Linked DNA regions of Homo sapiens. The protein of the gene in region 2 interacts with the protein of the main gene of each other region in a pairwise test. Each region holds a gene or a part of one and is shown on either strand. Other genes may lie near its edges. The genes, in order: SNX4, ARL6IP1 and SNX12.

Region 1 (3,750 bases), on a different chromosome or scaffold from region 2:
GCCTCTGCTGCTGATCTGACAGGAGGCAGAGCTCAGGTGGTCGCTTGCCTCCTGCTATGCAGCCTGGTTCCAAACAGGCCATGGACTGGTATCACTCCGTGGCTCTGGGGTTGGGGACCCCCTGCTTTAAATTATCTCTAGATTATTAATACCTAATACAGTGTAAACACTGGTGTCTCATATAAGTGGAATCATACAGTATTTGTCTTTTTGTATCTGTCTTATTTCACTTAGCATAATGTCCTGCAGGTTTATCCATGTTGTAGCATATATCAGATTTGATTCCTTTTAAAGGCTGAATAATGTTCCATTGTATGTGTATGTGTATGCCGCATTTTGTTTATCCATTCATCTGTTTCTGTTTCCTTTTAGACTGTGAGAACATTCTCTTTGAAGGGAATGACTACCAAGCTCTTTGGTCAAGAAACTCCAGAGCAGAGAGAAGCCAGAATAAAGGTGCTAGAAGAACAAATAAATGAAGGAGAACAACAGCTAAAGTCTAAAAATCTGGAAGGCAGGTAAAGATGCTGCGATGTTTAAGTAAGCTAGGCTTGTAGACTATATGGTAGATTATTTTATTTATTTATTTATTTATTTTGGTAACAATTCCCAGCTTCATTGGCATCCCTGAATACAGCCTATTCCTTTAAAATGCATTCCTAAGAAATTTGAGTTATCACGCTGGGTGTGGTGGCTCACGCCTGTAATCCTGACACTTTAGGAGGCTGAGGTGGGAGGATTGCTTGAGCCTGGGAGTTTGAGACCAGCCTGGGCAACGTAGGAAGACCCTGTCTCTACAGAAATAAATAAATAAATAAATAAATAAATAAAAATAAAAGAAAGTTGAATTATCAAAAATAATGTTATAGAAACAGTTGTTTCAATGTGGGGGAAAGAGAAATAAAAGTTTCAACTTCATAATATTATTTTCCTGCACTATTCCTGATTTCTACCCTTTGTACTTTCCCTCCACCATTTCTTCTCCCCTCCCCTCCTTCAGTACCCAGCTGAAGTGTTACTTCATTGTGAAGCCTTCTCAGGCTATCACGGCATTTAATTCATGCCAGTATGGTATGGCAGTTTTGTATTAGATGATTGATTGTTCTGTGTGACTATCCCTGGCTAAATTTAAGCCCTTCAAAGTCAGTGATTGTATCTTTTCCACATTCACATCCCAGTGCCTTACATAGGGCTTAGCATGTAATTGTTACATAAGTATTTCTAGAAATTCAGTTCTCAGAGACCCACTATCACTGTTTGACTCATTTTTCTTATTTTTGTTTTCATCTGACAGTCAGTGAATAGACCAAGGCAGACCAAGAGTGTATTTTGGGTTTTGAGGTGGTTTTGTTCATTTTTAGAACTACTAGCACCAAATATGGCAAAGTAATAGATAGAATTAAAAAAGACAGGCCGGGCGCGGTAGCTCATGCCTGTAATCCCAGCACTTTGGGAGGCTGAGGTGGGTGGATCATGAGGTCAGGAGTTTGAGACCATCCTGGCTAACATGCTGAAACCCTGTCTCTACTAAAAACCAAAAAAATTAGCCGAGCGCGGTGGCAGGCGCCTACAGTCCCAGCTACTCGGGAGGCTGAGGCAGGAGAATGGTGTGAACCTGGGAGGTGGAGCTTGCAGTGAGCGGAGATCACGCCACTGCACTCTAGCCTGGGCGACAGAGTGAAACTCTGTCTCCAAAAACAAATACCTCTCGGGATTTTAATTTTTATTATTATTTTTCATTTTTTTGAGACGGAGTCTCACCCTGCTGCCCAGGCCGGAGTGCAGTGGTGCCATTGTTGCTCGCTGCCACCTCAAAGTCCAGGGCTCAAGTGATCCTCCCATCTCAGCCTCCCGAATCACTGGGACTACCGGCTACCAAGCCTGGCTAAAAAAGTTTTTAAACTTTGGTTGTGATTTAAAACAAGTACATGCAGCTGGCCGTGGTGGCTCACACCTGTAATCCTAGCACTTTGGGAGGCCTAGGAGAGTGGATTGCCTGAGGTCGGAAGTTCAAGACCAGCCTGGCCAACATGGTGAAACCTTGTCTCTACTAAAAATACAAAAAATTAGCCGAGTGCAGTGGCGTGTGCCTGTAATCCCAGCTACTCTGGAGACTGAGGCAAGAACCCTGGATGTGGAGGTTGTGGTGAGCCAAGATCACGCCTCTGCACTCCAGCCTGGGCTACAGAGCGAGACTTGGTCTCAAAAAAAAAAAAATGCTAAACGTGATTCATAATCCATCTTGTCAAAAGAGTGTATATTTTCCAGTGACCCCTGGAAGGCACTTACTTCATTGTGACTGACACCTGTTAGGTTTGTGAGCTGGCTTAAGGAGTCATCTATGTGTATTTTATAGGAATAATTTAAAGGTAGAATCCTTGTGGCAAAAACTTAGATTATTAGGCCAGGTGCAGCGGCTCACGCTGTAATCCCAGCAGTTTGGGAGGCTGAGGTGGGCAGATCACCTGAGCTCAGGTGTTCAAGCCCAGCCTGGCCAACATGGTGAAACCCTGTCTCTACTAAAAATACAAAAATTAGTTGGGCGTAGTGGCGTGTGCCTGTAATCCCAGCTACTCAGGAGGCTAAGGCAGGAGAATTGCTCAAACCCGGAATGCAGAGGCTGCAGTGAGCCAAGATCACGCCACTACACTCCAGCCTGGGCAACAGAGTGAGACTCTGTCTCAAAAAAAAAAGAAAAAGTAGATTAAAAGGTACAAGAATATATGACTGTCTGTTTGCTTTTTCCCTAACTATAATTTTTAGGAAAATAAAAAAACTGTCTTATACAAGCAATAACTCTTCCTTCTACATAGGCAATTAAAAACCAACGCCAATGAGAACTGGTTAACTTTTTAGTACACAGTTTATTTAACTTAAATAATAATAATGGCTATACCTTTTATTTCAGAGAATTTGTGAAAAACGCATGGGCTGATATTGAACGCTTCAAAGAACAAAAGAACCGAGACTTAAAGGAGGCCCTCATAAGCTATGCAGTCATGCAGATCAGTATGTGCAAAAAGGTAGGGTTTTTCCTGTTTCAGTGAAGATATATGTATATTCAGAAGTGCTTATACATGTATTTAAATTACCTGACCAAAAAATTTTTCATTTTTATTCTTCTCTTGTAGAATGTTTACCAATTTCTCTATTTTAATTTTGTAGGATTTCTGTTTTATTTTGTTTTGGTTTTTTTATTTTAAAATTTTAAATATTTAAAAAATAGATATGGGGGGGTCTCGCTATGTTGCCCAGGCTGGTCTCGAACTCCTGGCCTCATATAGTCCTCCTGCCTCGGCCTCCCAAAGTGCTGCAATTACAGGTGCGAGCCACCATGTCCAGCCTCTACTGGTGTTACAACCAGTATGCCCATTACTGAGTCTCCACTCATCTAAAGTCCAAATTTGTATCTCCATTTATAACTTGTATTTGAGAATATATACCAAGATTATTTAGATCATATGGTACTCTTGGACCAGACAGTAAAATACCATTCCAGGTATATGCTTTGATTGGAAAATAGCTTGAACATTATTTCGTGAAGACCTGGTTATGATATGCTTCCTCATAAAGTAAATCATTTGTGTTGCTGATATCCATAGTGAAAGATACAAACATTGAAGCTTATTCTAGTTAAAATAAATGTTTGACAATGATGGAAGACTTTCTAAAACGTTGGTTTAAGAACAAAATAGGAAACATTCCTTAACCTCTTTTTTATAACCTAAGATCTGCCAGTGTGACTACCAG
Region 2 (3,750 bases):
GAAATTCACAATGCTCCTGCCCTTGCCCAGCTCTCTTAGGGGCAGTATGTGGTCTGCAGCTATGTTCTCTCACATTTATGACTTCCTTGAACATTTAAGAACCTGGTGGTTACTTAAGGAACATTTTAAAAATAAATTTAAATTCAATGGCCGAATACAAATGACCATGAGATTGGAAGTTAAAACCTGTAAAAAAGATAAAAGGTTGGAAGTTAAAACTATAGTTAATTCACCTGAAACAAACATCTGATCCGGACATTTGGCATGATTCTGTTTGTATCAAACGATGAAAAATCGGCCGGGCGCGGTGGCTACTGCACTACAGCCTGGGCAACAGAGCCAGGCTGTGTCTCAAGAAAAAAAGAAAAAAAAAAAAAAAAAAAAAAAAAAAAGATCAAAGCACTTGTTACTGCATTTGAAATCCTGGATAGAAAAGATGTACAAGTGCCTCAACACAGTTCCTAAACTGCCTAGGAATTCTACTGCTTGTGAGAGGGTTTACATATTTTCTTAGCTTGACCTCTAATGGAAGAAAGGTCGTGTCAAGAACTATCCTTTTGGCCGGGCGCGGTAGCTCACGCCTGTAATCCCAGCACTTTGGCAGGCTAAGGCGGGCGGATATCTTGAGGTCAGGAGGTCCAGACCACCCTGGCCAAAATAGCGAAACCCCGTCTCTATTAAAATACAAAAATTAGCCGGGCGTAGTGACGGGCGTCTGTAATTCCAGCTACTCGGGAGGCTGACGCGCCAGGATCACTTGAACCCGGGAGATGGAGGTTACAGTGAGCAGAGATCGCGCCACTGCACTTCAGCCGGGGCCACGGAGCGCGAGACTCCTTCGTCTCAAACAAACAAACAAACAATTCTGGCCGGGCGCGGTGGCTCACGCCTGTAATCCTAGCACTTTGGGAGGCCGAGGCGGGCGGATCACGAGGTCAGGAGATCGAGACCATCCTAACACGGTGAAACTACGTCTCTACTAAAAATACAAAAAATTAGCCAGGCGTGTTGGCGGACGCCTGTAGTCCCAGCTACTTGGAAGGCTGAGGCAGGACAATGGCGTGAACCCGGGAGGCAGAGCTTGCAGTGAGCAAGATCGCGCCACTGCACTCCAGGCTGGGCAACATAGCGAGACTCCGTCTCAAAAAAAAAGAAAAAAAAAAAAAGAATCCTTTTGGAGAGGGAGCTTGTAGTTTAAGTAACTTAAACATCCACGTATAATAAAGCCACTTAGAAGGCGGTGCATTTTCACACGTTCTCAAACCAGGCCTGGGTTTTTCCGCGCAAGCTAAGGCCTCATTCCTACTGGGTAGGAGAGAAACATTGCAGCAAAATCCACACAAAGAGCTCTTTTCACTTGTCCTCAAAACCTCACGGGTCGCAAATCCGGGCTAAACGGCTCAGGGGCCTGGCTGGGGAACTGGGCCGAAGGTGGAACGGATCCCAGCCACCTCGGGGCCAGGAAAAGATGAAGTGTCGCAGGCCCGGCGTCCCCGCCCTCCGCCTGAGGCAACGGAGCATCTCTCTTCGAGTAGCCCATTTTCCAGAGAGTCTCCTCGGCTGCGAAAGCCAGACGAAGAGGGACCCAAAGCCACCGCAGCGGCAAGAGCCGGAGAACCACTGAGGGACAGCGCCCCCTGCAGAGGCGGTTGAACCGCTTCCCACAGCGCTGGGCGGGGCGTCGCGCAGTCCCTGGGCGCTGATTGGGCACTCCGTGTCCCCTCCCCCTCGGCCCGGCGCTGCCTCTGTCTCCTTTGACCTCGATTTCAAGCCATGCGCTGAGCTTCGGTTGGCCCGGCTTCCTTGAGGCGTAAGCTCGGTCTGTCCAATGAGGAGCGAGCGTCGCGGGGGCCGTCGGGAAGGGCGGCCGACCCATATAAGCAGCCTGCGGGGCGTTCCCTCGGGTTGTGGTTGGTGTGCGGGTTTCGGTTGGAGGACTCGTTGGGGAGGTGGCCTGCGCTTGTAGAGACTGCATCCCCGAGACGATGGCGGAGGGAGATAATCGCAGCACCAACCTGCTGGTGAGTCCTGGCTGCCTGTCCCCCGGGAGCCGAGCGAGGCCTCCAGACGTCCGTGGGCTCAAACACCGCGGCCTCGTCCCTGTCACCCGCCGCGGGCCCGGCCCTTCTCTCCCTGGGCAGGCGACGATGCCTGGCCCTCGGGCTTCTTGGGTGACTCCTGGGTGTCGAACCCTTACCTTTCCTGGGGACGGTGCGCGACGGGGCGAGGAGGGCGCGTGATTCATCACCGCGAGTAGGAGTCGAGGAGGAAGTGGGAGGCAGAGGGGCTGCGACACTAGCCTGGGGTGCGGGTGGGGGCAGAAGGCCTCCTGGGGCCTGTCCAGCGCTTTCGCGGCTCAGGCCCCAGCCGTATTCGGCTTTCCCCGTCTTTGATCTTAACCTGGATGTGCCTGCCTTCTTTTCCCCCTAAAACTTGGACAAGGGTGGAGGGTCAAAGGGCTACTGCCCAGAATTTATCTTAGAGCTGGTACAACTTAAAACGACAGGGAGGCTGCGAGCTCACCGTGGGGAACCGGGAGCGGGGTCCAGCTGAACAGACAATGGGATGTCTTGGCGTTTGTCTGGAATTTGGAAGTCTGGCGGGGGTGGGGTCACAGGACTACTGGAAACAGCTTTAGAGTAATAAGCAGGGATCCGAAGGAACTGCAGTGAGATGGTATCATAGGCGGACACATTTTTATTTGTTATGAATTTAAGCGCACCTTGTGGGCAAAAAACAAGAGAAATATCCTTGCATATTCTCAGTTGCCCTTCCCTGGTGACTGTAGGTCACATACCAGCAATGAAAAACGGAACCAAAGAATTTACTTAGGGGCTTTTGAACTTCCAAGACCCCAGACGCTGGCCAATGACGTGACTTCAGGGCAGTTTTGATTGTGCGTGATTTTATATTTGCTTTTAGAAATGCATGGTTTGTTCCTTTAAACACACGCTCCTTCTAGCATAGTTAGTTCTCAGCGTGGATCTTTTTAAGAGGATTAATTGAAGCACAGAGAAGTAGCTCAAGCCCTGTTGAAATGACAAATCCTGGGCTAGAGCTCCTGCTTCCCAACTCTCCTTCCAGCAGAGCAATATAACTCTAAGGAAAGCAACGCCTTTGGTCGTGGATTTCTTGGATGCAGATCAGTTAACCTCTGTATCTGTTTCCTCCTTGGTAAAATGGGGACAGTAATAACACCTTTTTTTAAGGGTTGTTAGGAAGATTAATTGAAGTATAAATATGAATGCTCAGCAGAGTGCCCACACATAGTAGTCTCTTTCACTAGTATTAAGCATGGAATATAAAGTCAGAAATATTGAGATCACACTAGTGCTCAGCGTGGCACAGATAGCGAGCGTCTTTGTTAAGATTAAGTGCCTTGTTCTGTCATTTGCATGATTTCCAGTGAATGACTTTTACAAAGAGACAAGGTCTCAGCCCAGGCTGGTCCCGATCTCCTGGGCTCAAGCAATCCCCCCCGACCCGCCAAGTGCTGGGTTTACAGGCGTGATCCACTGCATCCAGCCTGATAACATAGAGACACTTGAGTTTCTTATTCTAAATTTTTCTTCCTTTACCAAAACCAGCTTTAAGGGCTTTTGCCACATTAGCTCATCCTAGAGGCCCACTTTCGGCTGTTCAGAGTCAGAGAAATTTGAAGTATAATCAAAATGACATCCTGAGTGGTAAGAAACACTGTATTGAGGAGGTATATTGACCGTAAAATGCCACCTTAATTTGGTGAAAGTA
Region 3 (3,750 bases), on a different chromosome or scaffold from region 2:
GCCCTACACTATACTACCACCATATCTAATCACGTACAAGTCGTATCTATTTTATTTCTTCAATCTCTTTCCTATCTCTTCCCTCCTCTCCATTGTCACCATCACCACTTGATTCGGAGTCTTATTGTCAATACCTTCATAATTCAACTTAAATATACCTTCCATGTTGTCTACAAAACAATTCTTCTAAAACATAAATCTGATCATGTATTTTTCCTGCTTAGGATCCTTCAGGGACTCCCTATCACCTACCAGAAAGCTTTGTATCACCTATCATGAAGTCAGAGATCCTTTACTTAATATAAGCGGATCATCCTTTGTCTGCCCATCCCTAGCCAGTCTACCTTTCTAAACACTTCCATCACACAGTCTGAATTGGCGATAAATGCCTAAAAATGCTCCACTGTTTCTTATCGCAAGGACTTTGTGTATTCTTTCTTTCTTTCGCTCTCTCTCTCTCTCTCTTTTCTTTTCCTTTTCTTTCTTTCTTTTTTTGATGGAGTCTTGCTCTGTTGCCCAGGATGGAGTGCAGTGGCATGATCTCAGCTCACTGCAACCTCTGCCTCCCGGGTTCAAGCGATTCTCCTGCCTCAGCCTCCTGAGTAGCTGGGATTACAGGCGTGTGCCACCATGCCCAGCTAATTTTTGTATTTTTAATAGAGACAGGGTTTCACCATGTTGGCCAGGCTGATCTCGAACTCTTGACCTCAAGTGATCTGCCTGCCTCGGCCTCCCAAAGTGCTGGGATTACAGGTGTGAGCCACCGCGCCCGGCCTGCATATGCTGTTTCTTATTCCAGAAATTACCTTTCCCTATTTCCACTCCTATTTGTCCTTTATGTCTTTTCATGTCTGTTAAACTCAGATGTTTCCTCCTCCAGGGGAACCTCCCCTAATTTTTCCAGTTATACATTTCCTATGTGCTGCTTTGAACATTTACTTATTTTGTATTTGTCGCATTATATTAGTTTTGTTTACTTGTCTCCCTTGCTAGAATGTTAACTCCTTGAGGGCAGGGACTCTTATTTAACTCCAGGATTTTAGTGTTTAGCATGGTGCTTGGCACGTATTTGCTTAGTGGATATTGGTTAAATTGAATTAAACAGCAATTGTGAAATTGTAGGGCCTCATACTCTGTTGAAAGAATTTCAGGCATCAGTGATATGGGAAATATTTTTTGAGTAGAGGAGGGCAGGGGAAAGGTGGAGAAAGGATGACCTGAAATCATCACCCAGTCTACCCTTTAATGTGGAGCATATGTAAATTAGTCATATAAATATTAATATTTCTATAGATATTCTCATGTAAACATTTATTCTATCTCCATTATGGGTTGCAAGCAACCTCAGAGCAGTGCCAAGTATGGAGTTCTGCGGAGTAGAAATAGAAGGTATGAAATAAGTACCCTCAATTTGCTGATAAATGTAAGATTGAGTACACCTGGAGTGTGGCAACAAGGAGTAAGATATGCCCAATTTTCCTGAAAAGTAAGAGAGAAATGTCTTTCTTTACCCCATCCTAGTTGCTTGCTGCTTTCCTGGCGCCATACGTAGTGCTGAGTGCGCCATTGTGTGTGGCGTGAACTGAAACCATCAGTGGCACAGGTGGGACGGCTACGTTATAGGTTCTCAGTACTATTGTTGGAACCCCACCCTCCATAGACCACCCTTCTATTTTCGCGGAAAACCAGGACTTATTCAGGTCACTGGGCTTCGGCCTATCACTGTAGGAGCCTGGCTCACGGGGCAGTGCCCACTGTTGATTGATACACGGTACGAGACAATTTCTTGGGTTGAGGAGCCGCGATTGGCGGAGCCAGCCTGTGCTGCTAGGCAGGGTATTGGGTACTGCGTATTGGGGATGCAGGTTCCCGGGTGGCCACAAACATCACCCGGAAGCCTGAATATGGCCTCCACTCTACAGGGCGCGCAGCAGTCAGCACGGCCGCTATTCAGAGCCCGGGGCCCAGGCCCGTGCGGCGTGCGCGTGCGTGCGTGGGCGCGCGTGCGCGCCGCCGCCGCCTGTGGGTTGGCTAGTTATTTTGCAAGCGGGAGGGGCCGTGCGCGCTCCTGCCTCAGGCCTCTGTCCCCCACCCCCTTTCCCCGGTCCCAGGCTCTCCTTCGGAAAGATGTCGGACACGGCAGTAGCTGATACCCGGCGCCTTAACTCGAAGCCGCAGGACCTGACCGACGCTTACGGGCCGCCAAGTAACTTCCTGGAGATCGACATCTTTAATCCTCAGACGGTGGGCGTGGGACGCGCGCGCTTCACCACCTATGAGGTTCGCATGCGGGTGAGTCACGGGGTGAGGGAGACAGCTGAGGGAGGACCGGGCGGCGCGAGCGGGAGGGGGGAGGGAGGCTACCGCGGGGGCAACTAACGGCGGGGAAGACGCCTTAGGGGTCATTTGGGGGTTAGGGGTATAATAGGCTTGGAACGAGGTCTGCCGATTCAGTTGTGGCCGGAGGATGCAGAAAACTCCTGAGGGAGACATCGGACGGGGATGCAGGAAAGCTACCCATGAGGAAGTGAAGCATGGCTGGATAGGGTGGGGTGGATGGAAAAAGATTAGAGTGAGGAATTCAAGGAGATAGGAATCACGGCTGTAGCGACTGAAGGAAGGGAGGGAGGATGGAAGAGGGCTGGGGGATGGAAAGCCAAGGCGATATATCGCTGAGCTCCATAACTAAACTAGGTTGTGAGAAGTCTGAAGAGGGAGGGCAGGAAGGCCGGCTGCTTTCTAATGAGGTCTCCCTGGGATAATGGAGTAAAGCAAAGCCTTGAATTAAAGGGAAGGTAGATTCCAGAAAAGGCAGACAGTAGGCTTGTGGGAGCAGAAATAAGAAAGGGAGTCTCCTTGAGACCGAGCGCTTTCCTAACTTGTGTCGGATCAGCATCTGAAGGAGAGAAATGTTTTATGCTTAAGTTTTCGCAGATACTACGTGCTGTCTCGCCTTGAAACCTGGCCTGGCCCTGGGATTGGTGCCTTGTCAGTCACTGCTTTCATTCTATGTGGATCCTTTAGATTTGAAGTATCCAGAATGTTTATTTCAGTATTTATTGACTCTCGTTTAGGTACTTTGTATATGAATGGCTTTTTGCCCTTTCTGTCCTAGATTACCCTTTTGGATTCTGACCCTGGTCTGTAGTTACTTTAATACATGACATTTCAGAATTGCCCAGGAGTGGCTTCTTCCAGCATGCATGATAGAGGACTTTACTCTCTAGTGCTTAGCCCATAATGCAAGGATGGAATGTGCAGATAGAGTACTTGGTTTGCAGGATCTTTTGCCCACTTGAAGTGGTTATAGGCAAAACAGTTTGAGAATCATTTTCTAGTTTTCCTTATGTTTTCTTCTCAGACTAAAAGGCCAGAATATTCTCTGTGGACAGCATCCTGCTCAAACAGCATTGAAGAACTAAAAGAGTGTATGTGCTTTCATTGTTGAAGGAGTGAATTGAATGAGAAATTGTGGTCTCCTACTTGGGCTTTGAAATCTTATTGAGAAATTATGATTTCCAGATTCCAAGTTTGGCAAAGTCCAAACTGAAGAAAGAAAAGTGAATAGCAAAACATGAGAAACACTTGTCTATATAAGAACTATGTGAAATCATGTCTTTGGGGGAGAATGGAATTTAGGTCCTTCAGAATATGATAAAAGCAGGAAATTGTCAGTGCTGGAGAACTTAGTTACCTGAGGGAGCTTGGGCATGACTAGTACAGCATAAGGGCTGTCTGCTGTGGGGTTTT

Evidence for each region.
Region 1: the proteins of ARL6IP1 (region 2) and SNX4 interact in binary tests that used the Homo sapiens proteins (3 or more experiments, as listed by UniProt).
Region 3: the proteins of ARL6IP1 (region 2) and SNX12 interact in binary tests that used the Homo sapiens proteins (3 or more experiments, as listed by UniProt).

Annotation. Positions count from the first base shown.
Region 1 is NC_000003.12:125,450,578-125,454,327, reverse strand, and holds part of SNX4 (sorting nexin-4), read left to right. Parts: intron 1-372; coding exon 373-518; intron 519-2,908; coding exon 2,909-3,023; intron 3,024-3,750. UniProt on the Homo sapiens protein: Involved in the regulation of endocytosis and in several stages of intracellular trafficking. Plays a role in recycling endocytosed transferrin receptor and prevent its degradation.
Region 2 is NC_000016.10:18,799,702-18,803,451, reverse strand, and holds the start of ARL6IP1 (ADP-ribosylation factor-like protein 6-interacting protein 1), read left to right. Parts: upstream 1-1,902; 5' UTR 1,903-1,985; coding exon 1,986-2,021; intron 2,022-2,081; exon of another isoform or gene 2,082-2,253; intron 2,254-3,750. UniProt on the Homo sapiens protein: Positively regulates SLC1A1/EAAC1-mediated glutamate transport by increasing its affinity for glutamate in a PKC activity-dependent manner.
Region 3 is NC_000023.11:71,066,684-71,070,433, reverse strand, and holds the start of SNX12 (sorting nexin-12), read left to right. Parts: upstream 1-2,099; 5' UTR 2,100-2,127; coding exon 2,128-2,292; intron 2,293-3,366; exon of another isoform or gene 3,367-3,428; intron 3,429-3,750. UniProt on the Homo sapiens protein: May be involved in several stages of intracellular trafficking.